Linked DNA regions of Homo sapiens: region 2 is linked to region 1. Evidence: fine-mapped expression QTL. A gene starts in region 1. The other region holds a variant in brackets. All regions are shown on one strand. Distances are from middle to middle.

Region 1 (12,053 bases):
ATAATATCTTTTCCAAAACTAGTCCAGCAAGGCTCTAATTGGGAGAAATGGGAAATGGAAGTCAGGCTCCCCACTCTCTCTGCTAACCACACACGGGCCGTGGTTGAGGTCCATTTCCAAATCACAGGAGGCCACTTCCTGTCTTAGCTTAGCATTGTTGGCGGGAGAATCTAACAAGGGGCCAAGGCCCTGTTGACTCTGGGAGAGAAGCAAATGGCCACCATCCATGAGTAAGAACCTGGACTTTCATCCAGCCTGCGGGTTGAATTGCCTGCTCACAAGAAATCTAGGTTCAGAGCGTTCTAGGGCAGGCACAAAATAAGCAGGACAGAGATAAAAAGATGGGAGTGAGAATGGAGAGATTGTATTTTTCCTTCCACAGATGCCATGGGGGAGCTGGGGCAGGGAGGAGCTTATCTTCCCCAAGCTCCTAGACGAGGCAATTCTTATTTCTAGCTGAATTCCTTTTCATCTCTCCTGACTTCTTCTCCACCCTTCTCCTCTATCTGCCTTGGCTTCTGGATCTTCTCAAAGCATCCCCCAGAAAAACTTCAGCCAACTTACTCCCTTTGACCAACTGTCATTTTTGAAAAGCTGCCCAGTCTCTTTGCGGTGATTTTCAAAGAGAGACCCAGGACTAGGTTTTCTTTCAGTGACAGCAATAGGTAGGAGGAGGGGTGAAGAAGACAGGAGTTTCTGATGTGGGAAACCACACACACACACACACACACCCCTAAGAAATGCTGAATCTGTAATTGCAAGACAATATAACCTTCCTGACATCTGAGGAAGATGTCAAGAAAGAAAAGCAAAAACTCATATTTGTGTTATAGCTGCTGGGGTTTCTACATTAGGGAGAGCTGACCCTGTTTGACCTTGCCTGTCGAGACCAGAGGGTTACAGAGAGACTGACCAAAGATATGTGGCCAAAAGGCCAATCATATGTGGGCAAAACTGGCCAAGCTGATCAGTTTGACACGTCAAAAGACAGATGTTGTCTGACTTGGGCAGCTTGTGGGCCAGAGAAGAAATCCAAAGCTCAGTATCTAAGAATGCAAAGGCGAGCAACAGTGTGAACCATCACCTGTGCTCCAGGTAAAGCCTGCCTGCCCTGCGTCATCACTTATTCAAGCAAAGGACTAAGAGCAGCACAATTCTGGCTTGTTAGTGTATGGCCTGAAAGTGAAGACTTCATTTCCCTTCTTCCCTGTGCACTTTCCTCGTCACTGTTCAATACAGGTGCCAAATGTGTCATCATGCTTGATGGAGCCTGGCGTTGGCTGGCTGGCTGTGATCAGCAGCTGACCACCTGACAGAAACACTTTCCCTAATTACATTTTTAACTTGGATTGTGCCACACTTAGTTACATTTTTGGGGGGAAAAGAAAGGAAGGGAGGGAAGAACAGTGAGTGAAGGAGGTTTGCAGAAAGCTTCAGGGCCAGATAGCACACAGACAGCCCACCTTAAAAATCAACACATCTTCCCATTTGTAACTTAACTACATGTCTAAATGTTGACATCCAGTGAACAAATATTAATTAAAAACCCAAGACATTCAAAACTGCACAAATGTCATCTTCCATTGTGTGAAATCAAAAAGGAACGTGTGGGTGAGTGGGGAGGTGGGGAGACACACCATAACCTACCTCTTATTGGTAATGAGCTTGAATTGTGGAAGGATACTTTCTGACTTCATACCATTTCTTATTAGTATGATGGTCAAAATTACAAAAAAAAAAAAAAATCACTCAGACTAATGGTCTCTTGTGGGCAAGTGGCGAAGAACACTGATTTGGCTTATTTTATTCTCTGTACTTCTCCTGGTGTGGTGGACAGTTTGCTGATACAATTATTTTGGATAGGACTTCATGTTAGGTATTGGCATGGAGGCATCCACATTTTTTTTTTTTGAGATGGAATCTCACTGTGTTGCCCAGGCTGGAGTAGAGTGGCACGATCTCTGCTGACTGCAACTTCCACCTCCTGGGTTCAAGTGATTCTTCTGCCGCAGCCTCCTGAGTAGCTGGGATTACAGGTGCCCACCACCATGCCCAACTAATTTTTGTATTTTTAATAGAGATGGGATTTCACCATGTTGACCAGTTTGGTCTTGAACGCCTGACCTCAGGTGATCTGCCTGCCTCAGCCTCCCAAAGTGCTGGGATTACCAGTGTGAGCCACTGTGCCTGGCCCTCATATGTTTATAAATCACTAGATTTTAAATATTGGCAGGGCTACAAACAAGGAGAGCTTGTCTGTGAAGAGAAAAACAATTAGCAAGGTCCTTCATTGTTTCTTCCTCTGCTGTCCATTCTATTTATTTGTCTGCTGCTAGGATCTAGGGGTGTCCTCGACCCTGCACATAATGGCAGGCCCCCTGTCTTCATCAGCACTGCTACATCCTCATATTTGGCAGGGAGCACTCTCATTTAAGGTAATGAGTGACTCCCTTTCACAATAGAACTCTGAGTGTGGCTCAAATTCACCCTGGCTAATGAATCTTCTGTATGGTTTTTTTTTTTTTTTTTTCTGAGGCAAGGTTTCACTGTCACCTAAGCTGGAGTGCAGTGGCACAGTCATGGCTCACTGCAGCCTCAACCTTCTGGGCTCAAGCAATCCTTCTGTCTCAGTCCCTCAAGTGACTAGGACTACAGGTATGTGTCACCACTGGCTATTTTTTTTGTTTGTTTTTTGAGACGACATCTTACTATGTTGCCCAAGCTCATCTTGAACTCCTGGGCTCAAGTGATCCTCCCTCTGCCTCTGCCTCCCAAAATGTTGCGATTACAGGTGTGAGCCACCCTGCCCGGCCTTGTGTTTCATTTTTAACCCTGATATAAGTAACAACACATCTGCTTATTAATATGTTCATGTTAACATTTACTATCCAGTTTGGGTGGAAGGAGAGTGTTCTCTGCCTCTGAGGTCCAGTTTTAACATTTATAAGTGCAGCGGGTCCTCCTGTTGTGGCCCACAAACCTTACTTGGGAAAATGTCACATTTGAGCAACCACACAAAACTACTCTGTGATCTCTGAATATAGTAAGGTCACCAGCCCCCACTTGATCTTCTGTTAAATGACCAAGATCATTTCTGGTCAGAAAGTATGTGTGTTTTTGCGAGTTTTTTTTGTCTTTGTTGACACATAATGGTGTAGAAATCAAGCTTAAAACTGATTGTAGAACAGTTTGGTGAGAAAGATTTTTGCTTTTCTGCCATAATATTCCCCTGGACTTTGCTTCGGGTCCAAAGTAACACCGGGAAGTTTAAGACCACAGAAATGTGACTAAATGAATGCTGATCACATTTACAAAAGCAAGTGACTTTGTCCAAAGTCTCTCATTCTCAGATCCATAGTAGACATATAGATACTTTTTCTAAGGGCAAAATTTCCTGGTTCACTAAGCCAGACTTCCATGTTATTGACGAAATAAAGATAATATTGAAAATGACAGTGTCTGAGAAGCAATCTCAAACTGCCTTTTATTACTGCACACAGTTAACGTGGAATTGAGAATCACTTTCTTTCTAACATAAAATGTGAGCCGTAGAGTTACTACTGAAATTCACCACAGTGATTCAGCCAACAACTCAACTTATTCCTTTGCAAAAATTTCTGAAGGTTTTTTTTTCTCCCTTCAATCTCAGCATTACAAAATAATGAGCAAACAGTTAAATTGGCCCAGCTCTGAGTTTCAAGAGAGATTTATGGTCTGCTCATCCTCTGGAGGGACCATAAAACCACCGATGACATCTTACTTTGAAATCTCTTGTATTAAGTAAAGAGATGGGTGTGGTGCGATAGTGAACTCTGCATGTGAGTGGTATTTAGACAAGTTCTGTACTTCAAAACAGAGTCCTTAACTCATACGAAGGCTTCCTGCCACTAGCAAGGGATCTCAGTAATGAGCGTGCTGCCTTCCCTAACACCCCCATCCTTTTCCAGAAAGATTCTTAATTTTATCCTAAATATATTTGATATTTTTTCCTCTGTATTTTGCTTTGGGTTTAAAAAATTCCCTGAAAGATTTTTTTCTCGTCTGTGGAAGCATCAAGCCGCAGATCCAAGTCAGTCCAAATCACCAGGATCATACAAGACGATAAAAGTGCCTTCAAGTTCTAATACTTGCTGGATGGGCCCAAGCCGCGTTTTAAATGTGAACAATGGGGTGGCTGCGGCAGAGAACTGACCATTTACTTCCTGCCTCAGATGACCCCCTTGTGATCTCTGAAACTGGGCAGAGGAATAAGGAAAGGGAAAGAACTGGGTTTTGGGGAGAAACATGCTTTCTGGAAGGCGCCCAGGTTTACCCAAAGAGCACAGTTAAGTGCTGAATTTCAACTAGCTCTGGAGTCACCCTGTTTGGGGCCTCATTCTGGAAACCCGAAGTCCAGCGGCAGCTTTCCTCCACATCAGGACAGAGAGTGGGGTTTGGGAGCGGACGAGGGAGCGGGAGTGGACGAGGGAGCAGGAGTGGGGCTCAACGACGACCCAGGCGCTCAAGGGGAAGGGGCTGAGAGCGTTTCTTCGCTGTGCGGCTGCAATAGAAACTTTTTCCTCGTACTATCTGACTCCGGGACTGGACTGTGAGGTCTGCAACAGCTGGTGGGGTTCGGGTGGGGAACACACTCTAAGCCCAGCGCCAGGGCTGGAGCCGTGGGTGGAGCCGCTGCAGCCCTGGGCCGGGGGCGTCAGGAAACTCGAGACTGGGGCGCGGGGAGGCCCCGGCCAGAGCGCCCGCTCTCCCGCGTCCCGGGCGGGGTCCTCACCTGTTCCAGCGGGCCACCTTCCTCCGGTAATACCGCAGCGCCTCCTGGCTGGCCAGGAGCGAGTCCTCGGCTCCCAGGAGAGGCGGCTCCTCCGGGACGTTGTACAGCGGGTGGGCGAAGAGGGCCTGCAACTTGGAGCTCGACCCGCTGTGGCTGCCGCCAGCCGGTTCAGTCCGGGGCTCGGTTCGGGAAAAGTTGTGCACGATCGTGCCGGGGTCCGAGGCAGCTGCGGCCGAGTCCCGCGCCAGGGAGGAGGCGCGGCCGGTGCACGGGCACCCCCGCGGGCGCTCCCGAGGCCGCAGCTGGCGCTGTACTTGGGGCCAGAGGTGGAAGTAGAGGTCGGCGGAGAGCAGCGCGCCCAGCAGCAGCAGAGTCAGTAGGCGGTCCCGGCGCAGCCCCGGCATGGCGTGCTGGCCAAGGGGGACGCCGGGGGCAGGCCGGCTGTCTCCGGGGTCCCGGGAGGGGTCGCGGGGTGCGGGCAGAAGAGGTGCCTGGAGTCCCGCGGGTGGGCCGGGGTCAGTGAGACCGGAATGCTCCCCGCGCGGGCTAGTCCCCTGTGGAGGGGTGTCGCTCCTCAACTTGGGGACCAGGTGCACGGAGCACCGGGGCTCTCGGAGTCAGCGGGCGTCGCTTCTCCGCGCCGAGTGAGCCGAGGGAATGGGGTTCCCGGGGTGCCCGCTTCTTGCGCCTTTTCTCCCGTGCGCCCGCCCGCCCGGACGCTCGCGGCAGGTGAAGGGCCCCGGGGCGCCGGCGCCGGCTGCCACCGCGGGCGGACGGGCGACGGGGCGGGGGGCGACCGCGGAGGGCGGACGGAGGCCGCCGGCTGCAAAGCCCGGGGCGTCTCTCCTGAGGATGCTGTCGCTCGGCGGCGGCTGCTAGTGCTCCCGCGACTCCTCCTGCGGGCGGCGGAGACGCCAGTGCCGGCGGCTGGCACGGGCGGCGCGAGTGGGGAGTTGGCGAAGCAGGAGCGGCTCCGGGGAGCTTGTCTGTGCGCCTGGACTCCTAGAGGCAGAGGTAGCGCGGGGCCTCCCCGAGCCTGGCCTGGCGCCGGCACCCCCACCCACTCTCCGCTGGCACCTGCCTCTGGCGCAGCTGACGGCCAACTCCCGATCCGAAGCCGGCGCTGCCCTTGCACCTTGTCACCCACCCACTGCCTGCGCCCTCCCCCTCGCTCGGGCCTCCCACTTTCCCTGCCCAGGTCTCAATCCAGTCACTTTAAGGGACTCACGCGAGGGGTCCGAAGCCTCTTTTTACCATTTCTATTATTTTTAGGGAAAAAAAAACCACCACAAGCCCCCTAAAACCCTTTTTTTCCTGTAAGCTTTGCCAAATGAGTGTGTGGGGGGGGGTGGGGGGAGGCGGGGGTGGCAGTGTTGGTATCTGTTCTTTCTTTGTGTTCCCTTCCACCTCCGCCCCCCTGCAGAGCGCAGGGCACATCAAGATTCATAACAACTACCTACCACATGCCTGGCACATAGTAGGTGCTCAGGAAACACGCTCTTGGTGAAGGAAAGAGCTTGACCTTTAAAAGTAAGGTATCAGTTTTACCTAGAATCTTGCTGATTTCCTGTTTGGAAGGAGTTTGATTCCAACTCTGCCTGTACTTTAAAAAGAGGAAATGTTTCTTGCACTCAGGGAGGGAGGGGCCCTGATGACCCCACTCCGAACTTTTGAGTTTAGCTTGGTGTGAAAGTAGTCCACCCAAATGAATCACTGGAGGACACATTTAGGCTTTCTCCAATATTCTGTGAGGTAATGTACCCTCCCCACACCCAGTTTTCCTTTTGAAGAAGAGGGAGGGAGTCCTGAACTCCTGGCTCCTCTATTTAATGACCCCATAGTATAGTAAAGTGAAGTCTGATTGGAGAGGCGGCCCCACCCTGCTGAATTTCAGGAAATCCACCAGAAGCTGCTTGCCCAGGCAGCAAAGCTTCCCATGTAAGTTAGTTCTACTCTTTAACCCCCTCCCTTCCCTTGCTGGAATTGAGAACCCTCAGACATACTTTGACTTGTGGGTTCAGACCAGAGTTCTTTTCCCCGTGGTTCAGTGTAAGATTTCTTCGGGACTTTGCAGTCTCCTCAAATGTAAATGAAGATAATGATGGAACCTACCTCCTAAGGTTATTATGAGACTTAAATGAATTGAAGTACAATTATGTGTCACGTCTGAGAAATGCATCCTTAGGCAATTTTCCTGTGTGTGTGAACATCAGGGTGTACTTACACAAACCTAGATGGTTCAGCCTACTACACACGGAGGCTACATGGCATAGCCTGTTGATCCTAGGTACAAACCTGTACAGCATGCGACTACTGAATGCTGTAGGGAGTTGTAACACAGTGGTGAGTACTTGTGTGTCTAAACATAGGAAACATACAGTAAAAATACAGTATTGTAATCTTATGGGACCACTGTTGCATTGACTAAAATGTTATGTGGCACTTGACTATGTATAAATTACTTAGAAGAGCTCCTAACTCATCCTAAATAAGTGTGAAATATGTGTTTGCTATCATTATGATTACTTATTAGTTCCTGTAGTACACTAGGCTTGGTTAGAGACTGCTCATCGCTAGGACAAAAATAGAAAAGGATGGAAAAGGAAGATAGCAGGAAGGAACCTGCTTTCAGGGGCATAACATTGTGGCCTGAGTGCCCAGTCCAAGTGAAAAAGCCCAAGACGGTACTATTCCCAGCTACTCCACTCCTCTGGGTATGATGGTGGGCATTTTGAGGGGTTCTAGAACCTCCTCCTTTTTATCTGGAATTAAATTTTAACTGATTTCCAATTTCTGAGAGACGTTGCAACTTCTAATGTGTTTAATTAGATGTCATGGCAAGCGAATGAAGAAGTCAGGCATTGAATGGTGGTGATGTAACTGCAGTAACTGTGTGGCAAACTGATGCGCATTTTTCTCGGCTGGCAAAGGACGTGGATGTGGTGACACTGCAGGTCTTGTGACTTCAATTCTCCTCAACCCATGGGGTCATACTCGCTTAGTAGACTCTTTTTTTTCTGGCCCCAATTTAGGGAACAATAGTGTAACTTGCTTGGAAATTATGTAAACATATTTTCCATGCCCTTTAAAGGTCACAGTCAAGTGCAGAACTGCATGTGGGAGTTAGATATTAAGTGTGAATGAAGCTGGATAGGAGAGTGGAAATCCTACCAGTAGGATTGGCCAATAGGATGTTGGCTTCCTCAGGTTTGCCTCTAATCTACCTTTACCCCTCCTAGAAATGAGCCTTCTCCTGCTCCTCCGATCTTCCATGTCTTGGGCCCTGGCTTACTTGCCAGCCTCACATACATCCTCTCCGTTCACACTGAAGGTATCCTAAATTGCTGTTTGCTGGGACCCATCATTCTGTTTAAAATCTTTCATTGGAAGCCCCTCCCTCCTTTTCCATCTCTACTGATCTTGATGTATCTAGAGCCTCATAATCTCTTGCTCATACTTGCAAATAGGCTTCTAACTGGTCCCTCTGCTTCCATGGTACCTTAGTTCAGTGCCCACACACACTCTTGCCAGAGTGAGACTTCTAGTATGCAGAGGCAACCAGGATATTCTCCTCCTGAAAACCCCCTGAGCTTCTCCTTGTTGCTGGATTAGGTCACTCATTGTGACACAGCTCTTCGTGGTCTGGCTTCTACCTCCTTTCTTCTTTATATGCCCCCTCTTTCGTCTTCACCCCACAAGACTTTCTGCAATTCCCAAGTGCTCCAACCTTGTAGGGGTGGGTTGCCCCTCCACACCTGTGGGTGTTTCTCATAAGGTGGAACGAGAGACTTAGGAAAGAAAAAGACACAGAGACAAAGTATAGAGAAAGAAATAAGGGGACCCGGGGAACCAGCATTCAGCATATGGAGGATCCCCCCAGCCTCTGAGTTCCCTTAGTATTTATTGATCATTTGTGGGTGTTTCTCGAAGAGGGGGATGTGTCAGGGTCACAAGACAATTGTGGGGAGAGGGTCAGCAGACAAACACGTTAACAAAGGTCTTTGCATCATAGACAATGTAAAGGATTAAGTGCTGTGCTTTTAGATATGCATACACATAAACATCTCAATGCTTTACAAAGCAGTATTGCTGCCTGCAGGTCCCACCTCCAGCCCTAAGGCGGTTTTTCCCTATCTCAGTAGATGGAGCATACAATCGGGTTTTATACCGAGACATTCCATTGCCCAGGGACAGGCAGGAGACAGATGCCTTCCTCTTGTCTCAACTGCAAGAGACATTCCTTCCTCTTTTACTAATCCTCCTCAGCACAGACCCTTTACGGGTGTCGGGCTGGGGGACGGTCAGGTCTTTCCCTTCCCACGAGGCCATATTTCAGACTCTCACATGGGGAGAAACCTTGGACAATACCTGGCTTTCCTAGGCAGAGGTCCCTGCGGCCTTCCGCAGTTTTTGTGTCCCTGGGTACTTGAGATTAGGAAGTGGTGATGACTCTTAAGGAGCATGCTGCCTTCAAGCATCTGTTTAACAAACCACATCTTGCACCGCCCTTAATCCATTCAACTCTGAGTTGACACAGCACATGTTTCAGAGAGCACGGGGTTGGGGGTAAGGTCACAGAATCTCAAGGCAGAAGAATTTTTCTTAGTACATAACAAAATGGAGTCTCCTATGTCTACTTCTTTCTACACAGACACAGTAACAATCTGATCTCTCTTGCTTTTCCCCACACAACCTCTCACAGATGTGTCTTTAACCGAAAGCTCTTTCTCCTTTCCCCACCTGGAAAACACCCATTAGTCCACCCAAGCTTTGGCCACTTGTCCAATTTTTCTCTGATGCTTGTCTTCATACCCATTAAACTCAGTGCCTTGTGCTCTCATGTGCCCCCACAGCTCCTCATATGTTCCCCTATTACAACGTTGGCCATGTTGGGTTTCCTTTTTAGTATGTGTTATGGGTTGACTATATCCTGCTCTCAAATTCACTTGTTGAAATCCTAACCTCCAATACTTCAGGACGTTACCTTATTTGGAAATAGGGTTGTTGTAGAAATAATTAGTTAAGCTGATAGCGTACTAGTGTAGAGTGGACCCTTAATGCAATATGACTTGTGTCCTTATAAAAAGGAGAAATTGGGACACAGAGACATGCATACAGGGAGAATGCCCTATGAAGATAAAAGACAGATTGGGCAATTCTTCTATAAGCCAAGGAATACCAAAGACTGCCAGCAAACACAAGAAGCTAGGTAAGAGGCATGGAACAAATTTGTCCCTCACAGCCCTCAGAAGAGTCCAACTCTACTGACACCTTGACCTTGGATTTATAATTCTAGAACTGTGAGACAATAAATTTCTGTTGCTTAAGCCACCCAGCTTGTGGCACTTTGTTACAGCAGCCATTGCAAATTTACACAGTACACATGTCTGCCATCTTCACTGGAGCACTACTCCTGAGTGTAGAGGGAGAATGCTACTTATATATGTACACAGAGCTCTGAGGATGGGGCCTATCATTTGAGAAATGCTCAAGAAATGTTTGCTGAGTGAAGGCAGAGATATTGGCCATCTCTACAACTGTAGAATCTCGCATATGGCCTAGTATACAGTAGGGGCTAAATTATTGTTTACAATAAGATGACATAGCTTTGGACCCTGTAGGAGACATAAAGAAATATATGACACAATTCCTTCCTGCCTTCAAGAGTCTTGTGATCATCAGAGAGTCCAGCTATACCTGTACTCACAAGCCAATGGGAAAAAAGTATGAGGTAGTACACAGAGCAGATTAGCAATCTGTGCCATTGCATGCATTAAGAGGAGCAAATGCAAAGGGCAGTTGTGTTTCCTTTCAGTCTAGCTAAATATCAAGCTCTCTACTTGCAGGAGTTAAATCATGAAAACAATAGAGTCAACATTTAAACACCAAGTTCCTCTATCTGTGAAGGTTAGACTCTATTTTTATCTTGCCCATGTTCCCGTGTTGCTTAGAACTTGACTAGTTGTTTTTTGTTTGTGTAGGCAGTTTTCTATACTAGACTATAACTCCATGAGTTCAAGGGTAACATGTTTTCTTTTTTATTTTCCTGTCTTCATAGGATCTTAGACACAGCAAGGCATGCAAATGAGAATTAACAAATTCCTGCAGAATAAATGATGTTTGTGGGTTTATGTGTGTTCATACATGGAGGTGGGAAGTGGTTTGGAAAAGAGCACTTAAAATAAGAACATAAATGTATATAATCTAGCTCAAGATAAGTGTTAAGTTAGAACATCTACATAAGTGTTAAGTTAAACATCCGTTATGGTTTTTTTTTTCTTTAGACAGGGTTTTTCTCTGTCATCCAGGCTGGTGTGCAGGGTGGCAGAGTGTGATCTGGCTCATGGCAGCCTTGAACTCCTGACCTCAAGTGATCCTCCCACCTGTCAGCCTCCTGAGTAGCTGGGACTACAGGCTCATGCCATCAGGCCTGGCTAATTTTTTTTTTTTTGGTAGAGATGGGATTTCACCATGTTGCTCAGGCTGGTTTCCAACTCCTGAGCTCAAGCTATCTGCCTGTTTCAGCCTCCCAAAGTGTTGGGATTACAGACATGAGCCACTGTGCCTGGCCCCAGTAGATGTTTACTTAGAACATCAATGGAAATTGCCTTGATCCTATTGAAAAACCAATAAGTAAGAGACACATAAAGAAATAACTAAATGTAGACATCTATGTCCCTCACAGTTTTTATTATAGTATAGATGCATGTGAGGAATGTTACCTTTACCTGCTAGCTGTCTCAGTAATCAGCAAGAGATGCAATTGAAATTACTATAAATGGAAGACCTAGAATGGAGTGAACTTAAGAAACTGAAACTGATTTAGTATTGCACTCAACACCTTATTCTGAGGTAGAAAGTCCAAAATTTTCTAATCGTGACCAACACATAATGCCTCAGCATAAGCCAGAGATTTCTCAAAGTGCAGCCTGTGGATCAGAAGTACCTGATGTGCTTATAAAAATGCAAATTCCAGGGCCACACCATAGTTCTAGTATTTTTTGGAGGTGGGGCCAGGAATGTACATTTTCAATAAGCTGATTCTTACCAGCTTATAAGATTCTGACACACATTGAAGTTTGGGAATCACTGGTTGAAAGGACAGTGCTAATGAGAGCAAAGTCACAGATTTGATTCCAAATAGGCTAGGTAGGATCCATTGTCTAACATTGGCCATCCAACTTGTGTCATAAGGTTCTAAGGCGCTAAAGAGAGAGAGACAGAGAGTACGTGTTTCCCCATCATTGCTACTGGGGAACACAAATAAACAAATAAGTGCCTG
Region 2 (12,053 bases), 23 kb before region 1:
AAGTGAGCTCCCAATTCCTTCTCATGTCACCTCCCCAAAGAGAAATGCACCCCCGCTTTGGAGGCTGTCCTTCCAGCCCTGAAAGATTATCTGCTTCAGCTAGCTCATGAATCAAAGCTTGATTTTAAGGAGCAGGTGATAGGTGGTAAATGCTGCTGTATCTGTAAATCAGAGTCACCATTAGTGATGGGTTTGTGAATCTAGAAAGGGGAAAGGGTGGGAGAGGCAGATCCCTCATCCCGAGTCCTGGCTCTGCCACTCACAGCTGTGTGACCTAGGGCAAGTTATCTAACCTCTCTGCGCCTCACCTCATGTGAAAAGTCAGGATAATAAATGTACCCACCTTATAGAATTTTAGTGAGGATTAAATGAATTAAAGTTTATGTTTCTTAGCCTGTTTTTTGTTGCTTTATAACAAAATACTTGAAACTGGGCAATTTATAAGAAATAACACTTCTCCCTTTCCCTTTCTTTCCTTTCTCTTTCTTTCTTTCTTTCTTTCTTCTTTCTTTCTTTCTTTCTCTTTCTTTCTTTCCTTTCTTTCTCTCTCTTTCTCTTTTCCTTCTTTCCTTCCTTCCTTCCTTTCTTTCCTTTCTTTCCCTCTCTTTCTCTTTTCCTTCTTTCCTTCCTTTCTTTCCTTTCTTTCTCTCTCTTTTCTTCCTTCCTTCCCTCCCTCCTTCCCTCCTTTCTTTCTTCCTTTCTTCCTTTCTTTTCTTTCTTTCTTTTCTCTTTTTTTTTCTTTCAACAGAGTTAAGCTCTTGTCGCCCAAGCTGGAGTGCAGTGGTGTGATCTTGGCTCACTGCAACCTCTGCCTCCTGGGTTGAAGTGATTCAGCCTCCCAAGTAGCTGGGAATACAGGTGCCAGCCACCATGCCCAGCCCAGCTAATTTTTTTGGTATTTTTAGTAGACACAGAGTTTCACCATGTTGGCCAGGCTGGTCTTGAACTTCTGACCTCAGGTGATCCGCCTGCCTCAGCCTCCCAAAGTGCTAGGATTACAGGTGTGAGCCACCACACCTGACCACATTTATTTCTTACAGTTTTAGAGGCTGGGAAGTCCAAGGTTGAGGGGCATATCTGATGAGACCCTTCTTGGTGGTGGGAACTCTCTCTAGAGTTCTTTTTTTTGAGACAGGGTCTCACTCTGTCACTCAGGCTGTACTGCAGTGGAGCTATCATGGCTCATTGCAGCCTCAACCTTCTAGGCCCAAGTGATCCTCCCACCTCAGCCTCCCAAGTAACTGGGACCACAGGCGTGTGCCACCATGCCCGGCTAATTTTGTTTATTTTTATAGAGACAGGATCTCCCTATGTTGCCCAGGCTGGTCTCAAACTCCTAGGCCTAAGCGATCCTCTGCAGAGTTCTGAGGTGGTGCAGGGCATCACATGGCGAGGGGGCTGAGTGTGCTAGCTCCGGTTTCCTTTCCTCTTCTTATAGCACCATGAGACCCACTCCCACGATAACCCGTTAATCTGTTAATCCATGGATCCATAAATGAGTTAATCCATTCATGACAGTAGAGCCCTCATAACTCAATCACCTCTTAAGGACCCCACTTCTCAACATTGCCACATTGGAGATTAAGTTTTAACATGAATTTTGGAGAAGACAAGCATTCAAACCGTAACATCATGTGAGTTATTGTTACTGTGACTTCTGGGACTCAGTACTGGTAACTTTATCCTTTACAAAGGGGAAGGAATACTGTGAAGAATTATTTCCAACTTCTGCTTAATTTCCCAGTTACCTGAGTTCTGCTTACCAAGGTGAAGTCAAGAGCTCTATTTGGCATTCCCTAGGATGGTCCCTGGGGTAGGCTGAATAATGGTGCCCCCAAAGAGATCTGCGTCTTAATCTCTGGGCTTGTACATACCCTATGTGTCCAGATGGGCTGGCAGATATGATTAAAGTAAGAATCTTGAGATGGAGAGATGATCCTGGGTTATTTGGGTGGGCCCTACATGTAATTACAAGAACCCTTATAAAACAGACACATAGACAAGAAGACAGAGAAAAGAGGATGAGGCAATGTGACCACAGAGGCAGAGACTGGCATGAGGTGGCCACTAGTCGATAGGTACAACTATTATGTATCAATATTTTTTTAAAAAAGAAATTCCTGGAGTCACCAGAAGCTGAAAGAGATAAGAAATGGATTCTCGCCTAGAGCCTCAGGAGGGGACACAGCCTTGCATACATCTTGAGCTTGGACTTCTGGCCTCCAGAAATGTAAGACAATAAATTTATGTTGTTTTAGGCCAGTCAGTTTGTAATAATGTGTTCTGGTGGCTTTTACAAATATACAAGCAGGCCAGGCACAGTGGCTCATGCCTGTAATCTTAGCACTTTGAGAGTCCAAGGCAGGAGGATTGCCTGAGGCCAAGAGTTCAAGACCAACCTGGCCAACACAGGTTCACTTTACTTTACATATATATATATATTTTATATATATATGTCTTCACTTTATATATATTATATATTTTATATATTATATATTTTATATATTATATATAATATATTTTATATATTATATATTATAGATATTAGATATTATATATTTTATATATTATATAATATATATTTTATATATTATATAATATATATTTTATATATTATATAATATATTCTATATTTTATACATTATATATAATATATTCTATATTATATATAAAATATAATATAGAATATTATATTTTATATATATTTTATATTTATATATTATATTTTTATATTTTATATTATATATATTATATATTATATATTTTATATTTTATATATTATATATTTTATATATTATATATATTTTATATTTTATATATTGTATATTTTATATTATACACACACACACACACACACACACACACACACACACACACATAATCAGCCATTGGCAGTTACAGCTGCCACCGGGCAGGGCGTGATGTTTAGGCACTGCTGTTTCTGAGAACCAAGTCCAAAGGGCGCCCCCTAAGAATGGCCTTTCCCTTGCCCAGGAGCTAACCCTGGGGAAGTGGATGGTGTTAGGCTGGAGAGAGGTTCTTGCTTCTTCATCTCATCCCGAATTCTGAAACTTGGCTGCATGCTGAGCCCTTTAAATGGGTCTGGCCAGCCAATGGAACAAGCTCCCATAAGAGTACAAAAGCCCAGTGCTCAGCCAGCTCCAAATTCGTAGTGCCATGGTCCTCTCTGGCTCTCTAGACCCTGCCCCCATACCTGCCTCAAGCACTCTTTGCTTCAATCCCCCACACCTCACATGTAATAATTGTCACCATTTCTGGAGCCATGGCTCTCTGCCAGCACCTTTTATGAAGACTTCACATGTGCTGGCTCATGACTCTTCACAACAGCCCCATAAGACAGGTCCATTGTTAGCCCATTTTATAGATGAGGAGACTGACTTGAGCTAGCTCAAGGTCACCTGCCTGGTGAGTGGCAGGCACAGTGCAGTGATTTGGACCTGGCCGACTGGCTTCCTAGGCCAAGCTCTTCATCATGACCCTACGTGCTGACTGCATCATGGTCCATCTGGCACCTCCTGGCTCCTCATGCTGCAGCCCTGAGCCCAAGGCTCCCTTCTGACTGTCCCAGCCTCCTCCCCAGGGAGAGAGACCTGTAAGTCCATAAATGCTGTGAGGGTGCTCAGTCTGGGCAGGGAGATCCTCGCTGTAGACACCTTTCAGACACTTAGTGGTGGGTACTACAGAAAACGTTAGTTACATGTAGTTGGGGACCTAGGGACAAAACGACTTGCTTAACTGATGAGCAAATCTGAGAAAAAATTAGGAATCAAAATATGATTGTTTTAAATGGTTTTATCAAAGTGGCTAGACTTGCCCTGTTGATTTTGCTCAGCCCTGTTCATTTTGAATAGCCTAACAGCTCTGAGTCAAAATGGCCCCAGGCTGAGCTAGTTGCCTAGGGCAGGCCAGGAGGGACATTCTAGGAGCTGGGACTCTGTCTATAGTAAAAAGTCTGCTTATCTACCCTCACAACAACTTTCAGACACCCTGGAGAAGAATGAAAGAATGATCCCTCATCTAAGAGTCCCCAGAGTCCAGTCAGGGAACTAGCAGATGCCTTCTATCCGGGCCAAGTTTCCCAGATTCTTGTTTTGGCTATAGAGCTAAGATCCAAAACATCTAGCTCCACACAAATAAACTTAGAAAGAGCTGCCAACGGTGACCACTCTGAGGGGAGTGACCATGTGCAGAAAGACAGTCAAGGCTTGCAGAAGTCCTGCCATGACGGCTCCTGCTCAGAGGACATCTCTTAAACCATTTCCTTACGTAGCACACACCAATTCCCCTCTATTCTGCATGGTACATGACACATTTTGGGAAACATGAAATATTAAAGCTGGACTGCGGAGCTCCTCAACCTAATTGTGATGTGATGATTCACGCAGCACAGGGGCCTTGCAGCTGCAGAATCTCCCTTTCTGCAGAACTGTTGCCTCCCTGCTGTAGACCAGTGGTTCGCCACTGGGGGCGATTTTACCCCTCAGGGGACATTTGGCAATGTTTGGAGACATATTTGGTTGTCATAGTTGGTGGGGAGAGTGCTGAGGGCTGTTGTAAACATTCTCCAATGCAAAGGACAGCTCTGCACAAGAGAAAATGATCTGGCCCCAAATGTCAGTAATGCTGAGTTAGAAATCCTGGGCTAGAGCCATAGAATAATGAGCAAATAAAGCACTTAATCCTCTGATGATGGCCTGAAAATTGCTCTGATGGATTTTGCACTCGGTGTAATTTAATATTTTCCATAGACGCGTAAAAGCCTTCCTCAGAGCCTCTCCACTCCTTCTATAGCTTCTGCACAGCCAAAAATTAAAAATGTTACTTAATTGTTTAAAAAAAGAAAACCAATTTGAGTCAGCAAGCATTTAGTTGTCAGACTTCTACCAACCTAACAAGCATATTGATAAAACACTAACACACGTGTTAGTTGCAAAAGATGCAATATTGATTTATTTAAATGTCATCATTGTGGTGCTTTTCAATCTTCCAACTGTGTAATCCTAAAATAAATAAATATATATTTCACACACCACACACACACACACACACGCACACTATTAGCAAGTGACATTGGATAGACAGGTGTCCTCTCTTTCCTCTACCATTTTCCTGAATGCAAAAAGAAGAAACGTGGTGTAAAGGCAATACTCTGAGAGAACCAAGACAAAGCAGGAGCTTTAAAAATCCACCCCCTGGGTCCTCTAATAATCAAAGGTTTACCAGAATATATTTATTTTCAAAAGTGTCTGAATTCTGCCTTACTGCCTATCATACAGGCATGGGCATTTGAAAGAGAGATGGATTTGAATGTTGGGGAATCTGCATGTAGGTGGGTACAATACGGGGTTAGGCTGGGGCACATATTTTCATGGTTCATAAGCAAATTTCCTTGTGGCTCACTCAGATTAAATTCTTTCAAGTCCTTGGCCTGTGAGCTAGTGCTAATTTGCGTGGTATTATTTTTCCACCTGATTTGCAAACCAAGAGAATGATAGCAAATGTTGGCCTCCTTTCCTCCTCAGCATGACCAGTCACCCATGTGGTAGGATAATTTATTGAGATATTAATGTGTTTTTTGTTCTTCCGGAATTTTACCCACCCCTGTTCTCAGAAGATAGCTGGGCCTTTGTGTTCCTTGCCTCAGAGTGTTTTTAGGATCCAGGACCAAGGGGAAGTTTAGACAGGTAGCCAGGCTTCTCTCACTCCTTCCTTGGATTTTTAAAAATGTCTAGGCTCGGCCAGGTGCAGTGGCTCATGCCTGTAATCCCAGCACTTTGGGAGGCCGAGGCAGGCGGATCACAAGGTCAAGAGATCGAGACCATCCTGGTGAACATGGTGAAACCCTGTCTCTACTAAAAATACCAAAAAAAAAAAAAAAAAAAAAAAAAAAATTACTGGGCGTGGTGGCAGGTGCCTGTAGTCCCAGCTATTCAGGAGGCTGAGGTAGAAGAATTGTTTGAACCCGGGAGGCAGAGGTTGCAATGAGCAGAGATCGCGCCACTGCACTCCAGCCTGGTGACAGAGCGAGACTCTGTTTCAAAAAAAAAAAAAAAACATGTCTAGGCTCAGTGAAGGCATTTGCTAGGCAGGGGGATTTAACAGAGAATGTGAAAGTGCATAAAGAAGCACAGAATTTTGGGGAAGCATGAAGAGACTCCAAGGTTAGGAAAGGAGAGTTGACTGGGGTCTGTGTCTGGCCTGTTTCTTGGAGGTGATCCAATGTGCTGGGGAACGGTTAGGTGTGTGCAGAGAAAGACTCATTTTAGGCACCAGAAACCGAGTCTCAGCCAATAATCCTGTGCTTGAACTTGATGCAGAACCAACAGTGCCACCCACCTGCACGAGACCAGGTGATGGAACATGGACTATGGGTCCTCCTCAAATGTGCTCCCAGACACCCTAAGGACATTGACCCAACATGAGGGGCTTGGGGTAAGGAGCTCCAGTGATGACTCAGACTAAATTTCTAGCCAACCAAACAGAAAAGAGGGCCTAGAGTCCAAAGTGATTGGACTTTTGAAAAATAAACCAATGCTATGTTACTTTGATTTTTGAGTTTGTAGAGCAAAATCCATCTGAATTCATTTACCTATTGAGTGAGAGTAGGGTAGGTTCTGTTAGAGCAACAGCTTAATCCTGAAATCGGAGTGGCTTTTCAAAACAAGAGCTTATTTCTCACTCATGCTACTTGTCTCGTGAAGGTCAGTAGGGATTCTGCTCCACACACTGACTCAGGGACCCAGCTTGATGAACACACCAAGATCCCAACAAATGGTCTTCACAGTCATCAGGGCAAGAAAAGAGAGGAACTGGAAGATGAAGTGCTGGCTCTTCAATGCTTTGGGAAGCGACGCAGATCACATCAACTGATAACCCATTGTCCAGGACTAGTCACATGACCCCAACTAACTGCTGGGGGCTGGAACACACGGGAGAACAAGTGGACTTTGGTGAGCAGAAAATGCCTCTGCCACAGCCTCTTGGTACTTATTGAACATAGGATGTGTCTTTTGATTTAATACTATTAATAGTTTGCATTTGCATAAATCTCATTATAAAGGCATTTTAGGTTATTTCCATTTATTGTCTTATTCTCCTCTCCTCAAGCTCTTAAAGAAACTAAGGTCCACAAAGTGGAAGTAACAACATAATAAGTGGAAAGGAGGAATAAAAGCCAGGGTTGTGACCTGAGCTTTTTCTGCTCTTCCACAGTGGCTGCAGAGAAACGAATGCTTTGTCAAGAATTTAATTTGAATTTCCTTGGAGCCTTCTTAAAGATCATGGTGGTGGTGGGTGGGGGGAGACACAGAACCTGATTAACT[G/T]TTTGCTGTTGAGAAAGCAATGACTGTACCAAGATTTTACTGAGATTTTTGCGAAATGGGCTGGTTTCCCGAAATGGGCTGGTTTCCCGACAAAAACTCATTCCTTTCTCGTTAAAATACAATTGCTTCCTCTTCTGGGAGCTGGTTTTATGCTATGTTGCAATGCACCTCTTGTTTCCACTCCAGCTAACTGTGTCCTTAACCTTATCCTGACCTCATAGAACCACAGCCCTGGCTCAGCACTTAAGTAAAACCCGCCCAGAGAGGGGCATGGGGCTTCTGAGCTGGAGTGGCCCCGAACTGGAAGGGACTTGAATGAGAAGGGGCATATCATGGATTGTCCCAGGGTGGAAACCACCTGGACTTCTGCCTTGGTGAGCAAAAATCAGACTCAAGAGGAACCAGTGTCCCAAAATGGGCCTACAGTGTGAATGAGGAAAATAGCTAACTACCTCTTATGTGGCACTCACATGGGGCCAGGCAGTTTTAAGCACTTTGCTCTTTTAACTCATTTCACCCCCACAGAAACTCCTCATAAGGTCAGTATTATTATTATTACCACCATTGTAAACATATGGGAACCAGATATAGGCAGCAAAAATGACACCTCCAAGGTGGCACTGCTAGTACAAGGCAGCGTTGCGATGACACCCGAGTATGACATCTGAATATGTGTAAGATACTCCACCAATAATGATTTTTCCCCCTGATTAGGAAGACCAAAAAACTTTTGTATAAAAATAAAAAACTATGGTGCATAAGGAGGGATGAGTTGGATAACTTTTAAAACGTCTGATGCTTATTGCCAACTTGCCCTCCAGAAAGAGAAAGCAACCTATACTTCCAGAGCAGGGTACTGGGAGTAATTCTGCCTCGATAATCTCTGGGCCCTGATGCAAAGGGGTGTACTGTGACAGCATGGCTCACTAAGCCTCCTGGACACAAATCTCTTCTCAAATTGGTTTCCAGGACTCAGGCTCAGACATGAAATAAAGTTAAACTCAGTGTTGAGTTTCGGCTCTGGAGTTGAAAAGGTATCTCCGAAATGCAGTTTTTCTTTCTTTCTTTCTTTCTTTCTTTCTTTCTTTCTTTCTTTCTTTCTTTCTTTCTTTCTTTCTTTTTCTCTTTTCTTTCTTTCTTTTCTTTTTTTCTTTTCTTTCTTTCCTTTCTTTCTTTCTTTCTTTCTTTCTTTTTCTTTCTTTCTTCTTTCTCTTTCTCTCCTTTCTTTCTCTTTCTTTCTTTTCTTTTCTTTCTTTCTTTCCTCTCTCTCTCTTTCTTTTTTCCTTTTTTTTTTTTTTGACAGAGTCTCACTCTGTTGCCCAGGCTGGAGTTCAGTGGTGTGATCTCTGCTCACTGCAGCCTCCGCCTCCCGGGTTTAAGCGATTGTCTTGCCTCAGCCTCCTGAGTAGCTGGGACTACAGGTGTGCACCACCATGCCCGGCTAATTTTTGTATTTTTAGTAGAGACAGGGTTTCACCATGTTGGCCAGGATGGTCTCGATCTCCTGGCCTCGTGATCTGCCTGCTTTGGCCTCCCAAAGTGCTGGGATTACAGGTGGGAGCCACTGTGCCCAGCCAAAATCCAGTTTCTTGTGTAACATACTCTGTCTGAGCCACTTTCTTCATCTGAAAATGAGGATAAGGACTGTACCTGCTTATGGGGTTGTTGCAGGGAGTAAATGTGTGGTGGGTGAAGTGGTCAGCACTGTGCTTAACATAGAGTAAGTGCCGCACAAGTGTCACCTGCCATCAAAGTGTCACCGACTCACCAGAGGCACGGTTTGAAGGGAAGGTCTCCAGGGAGCAGAGATTAGCCTGTTTAACCAGTTTAATAAATGCTTTAGTAAAAGAAAAAGAGTTGTTCCTAGAATCAGCAGAATTCCTGTCACTTCAAGGAAAGTCATTGAGAAACATGGGCTCAGCAGTTTGCACTGAGAAGGGTATGTGCATGTAGGAGGGGAAGGGGGGCAGAGTTTCCAAAATAAGTAGATTGATTGCGTTCTGTGTTTTCTCCCCATTTGCAAGCATTAGGTAATTGACGTCGAAGTGATGGAGGAGAGATCAATATGTGTGTTTTCTCTCTCGCTAGAAGCATGAGAGGCAGCTAAGTCAAGTGAGGGCGATGGCTGGGCTGGAAGCACTGGTGCCTTTCCCTGACAACAGGAGGCCACAAAAGCCATTTCATCATCATCATCCACCCAAACATCAAACATAAATGGATAAGGCTGCATATCGATAAGTATCAAATAACCTGTAAGGAATATTAAAGCATAATCAACTAGCAGTGGTCCTTTATCTGCTTGAGGATCAGTGCTGTAGGAAACCAGGCACCCTGCTCAGTGTGTTCTGTACATGATCTGACTCCATCTTCCCAGCCACCTCTTGGGGTCCAGATTACATCCCACTTTATAGACCAGGAAACTGAGGCTTGGAGGAAATGAGCCTTGGCCCTGCATAGCGCTTATGTGGAAGAGCCAGGATTAATTTTTTTTTTTTTTTTTTTTTTTTTTTGAGACAGAGTCTCGCTCTGTAGCCCAGGCTGGATGGAGTGTAGTGGCATGATCTAGGCTCACTGCAACCTCCGTCTCCCAGGTTCTGGTTCAAGCAATTCTCCTACCTTAGCCTCCCGAGTAGCTGGGATTACAGGCACACACCACCAGGCCCAGCTGATTTTTTTTTTTTTGTATTTTTAGTAGAGACAGGGTTTCACCATGTTGGCCAGGCTGGTCTTGAACTCCTGACCTCGTGATCCGCCCACCTCGGCCTCCGAAAGTGCTGAGATTAGTGCCAGGATTTAAACCCAGAGTTGCCTGACTGCCAAGTTTCTCTTAACCATTCATTTACCAAATATTTGTTGAGTGCCTACTATATACAAACAGCATTTTAGATACCTGGGTTACAATGATGAAGACACAAAGAAGCCTCCATCTTTCTATTAGTTTTCTGTTGGGGCCCTAACAAACTACCACAAACTTAGTGGCGTAAATAACAAAAAATTCCTTCTCTCAGTTCTGGAGTCTGAGAGTTTGAAATCAAGGTAGCAATAGGACTGTGCTCCTTCTGGGGACTCTAGGAGAAAGCCCCTTCTTTGCTGTTTCTGTCTTCTGGTGGCTATTGGTGTTCCTCAACCTGTGACCACCTCACTCTACTCTCGGCCTTTGTGGTCACGTTGTCTTCTCCTCTTCCGTCTGTGTCTAATCTCCTTCTGCATTCCTCATATAAGGACACTTGACATGGAACTTAGGGGTCACTGGATAAGTCAGAATGATCTCCTCATCTCAAGAGTCTTAATTATATCTGTAAAGACCTGTTTTTTTTAACCACATAAGATGATAGTTGGCTGGTTGCGGTGGCTCATGCCTGTAATTGCAGCACTTTGGGAGGCCAAGGCGGGCAGATCATGAGGTCAGGAGATCGAGACACAGTGAAACCCTGTCTCTACTAAAAACAGAAAAAGTTAGCCGGGCGTGGTGGTGCGTGCCTGTAGTCCCAGCTACTTGGGAGGCTGAGGCAGGAGAATGGCGTGAACCAGGAGGTGGAGATCGTGCCACCGCACACCAGCCTGGGTGACAGAGTGAGACTCCATCTCAAAAAAAAGATGATAGTCACAGGTTCTGGGGATTAGAACATGAATATCATTTGGGGAGCCATTATTCGGCCTACCTCAAGGGCCATCCTAGGGAATGCAAAATAGAGCCACCACTCAAACCAATTCAACCCTTGAAGAGTTTAAGATCTGGCTGGGTGTGGTGGCTCACGCCTGTATTCTCAGCACTTTGGGAGGACGAGGCAGGTGGATCACTTGAGGCCAGGAGTTTGAGACTAGCGTGACCAACACGGTGAAACCCTGCCTCTACTAAAAATACAAAAATTAGCCAGGTGTGGTGGCACACGCCTGTAATCCCAGCTACTTGGGAGGCTGAGGCAGGAGAATCACTTGAATCCAGGAGGTGGAGGTTGCAGTGAGCTGAGATGGTGCCACTGTATTCCAGCCTGGGTGGCAGAGTGAGACTCCATCTCAAAAACAAAACAAAACAAAACAAAACAAAACAAAAAAAAAACCCAAACACAAAAAGCTTAAGATCTAATGAGGCTATACACTAAGCAAATCAATACACAAAAAGGCATTAAGTGGTGTTAAGAGCCCAGCTGAAAATAAAACAGGGCTTGGTAAGGACAACATCTGGGACCCCTGTGGGTCAGCAGGACAGGAAAGTTCTCTCTGAGTGGGCAGTTTTGAAAGTAGACGCAAAGGACAAGAAGCAGCCTGCTGATCATCTTCACATCTTCAGTAGAGCCTGACCATTCTGGTTCATCAGCTTAATTTATGCCTTAATGAGTAAATAATACTTCTGGATGAGTTGGGCATAGCATCTCCTGCCAGGAGAGGGAGGAAGAAGCATTTTCTTATATGCAAATAAAATGGCTTTAATATCATAAACTGCAAGCAGCCTTAACAGACCACTGTCTTCACAACTGCCAAAAAGAGCTGCTGCGGACCAACTGCTATAAATCCTAGCTCATCATATTTGGCTGACTTCCCCTGCCTTTTAATGATTTTATAGCTAATAACAGAACAGAATGTCGTCTCATTCAGTTACTTGGGGTGTACATTTTGCAGTGAGTTAAACCCAGAGAGGCCACTGGTGAGTTACGCTGATAAAGTTAGGCATTCAATGGTTGCTTTATTGATGTTTTTTAATACCTAAGG

Which allele goes with the higher level. Positions count from the first base shown, and alleles are read on the strand shown. Sizes are in standard deviations (SD) of each study's normalised expression.
With allele G in place of T in region 2, the expression in atrial appendage of the gene that starts at base 5,876 in region 1 is lower (small effect, 0.25 SD a copy in GTEx).

What was found. PIP is the estimated chance that this variant, and not a neighbour inherited with it, causes the effect.
Region 2: its variant is fine-mapped to the expression of FAM20A in atrial appendage (GTEx, PIP above 0.99). The same link has a PIP of 0.9 or more in lung.

Annotation. Positions count from the first base shown.
Region 1 is chr17:68,595,492-68,607,544 of GRCh38, forward strand. It overlaps FAM20A (FAM20A golgi associated secretory pathway pseudokinase), which reads right to left and starts at 5,876. Exons shown (of 11, transcript NM_017565.4): 1 at 4,772-5,876. The coding sequence starts at 5,175.
Region 2 is chr17:68,572,955-68,585,007 of GRCh38, forward strand. The region is part of intron 1 of FAM20A (FAM20A golgi associated secretory pathway pseudokinase); the gene reads right to left. Among named protein-coding and RNA genes, the nearest start is that of FAM20A, 22 kb to the right of the region's middle. The variant G/T (reference allele first, on the strand shown) is at 7,344.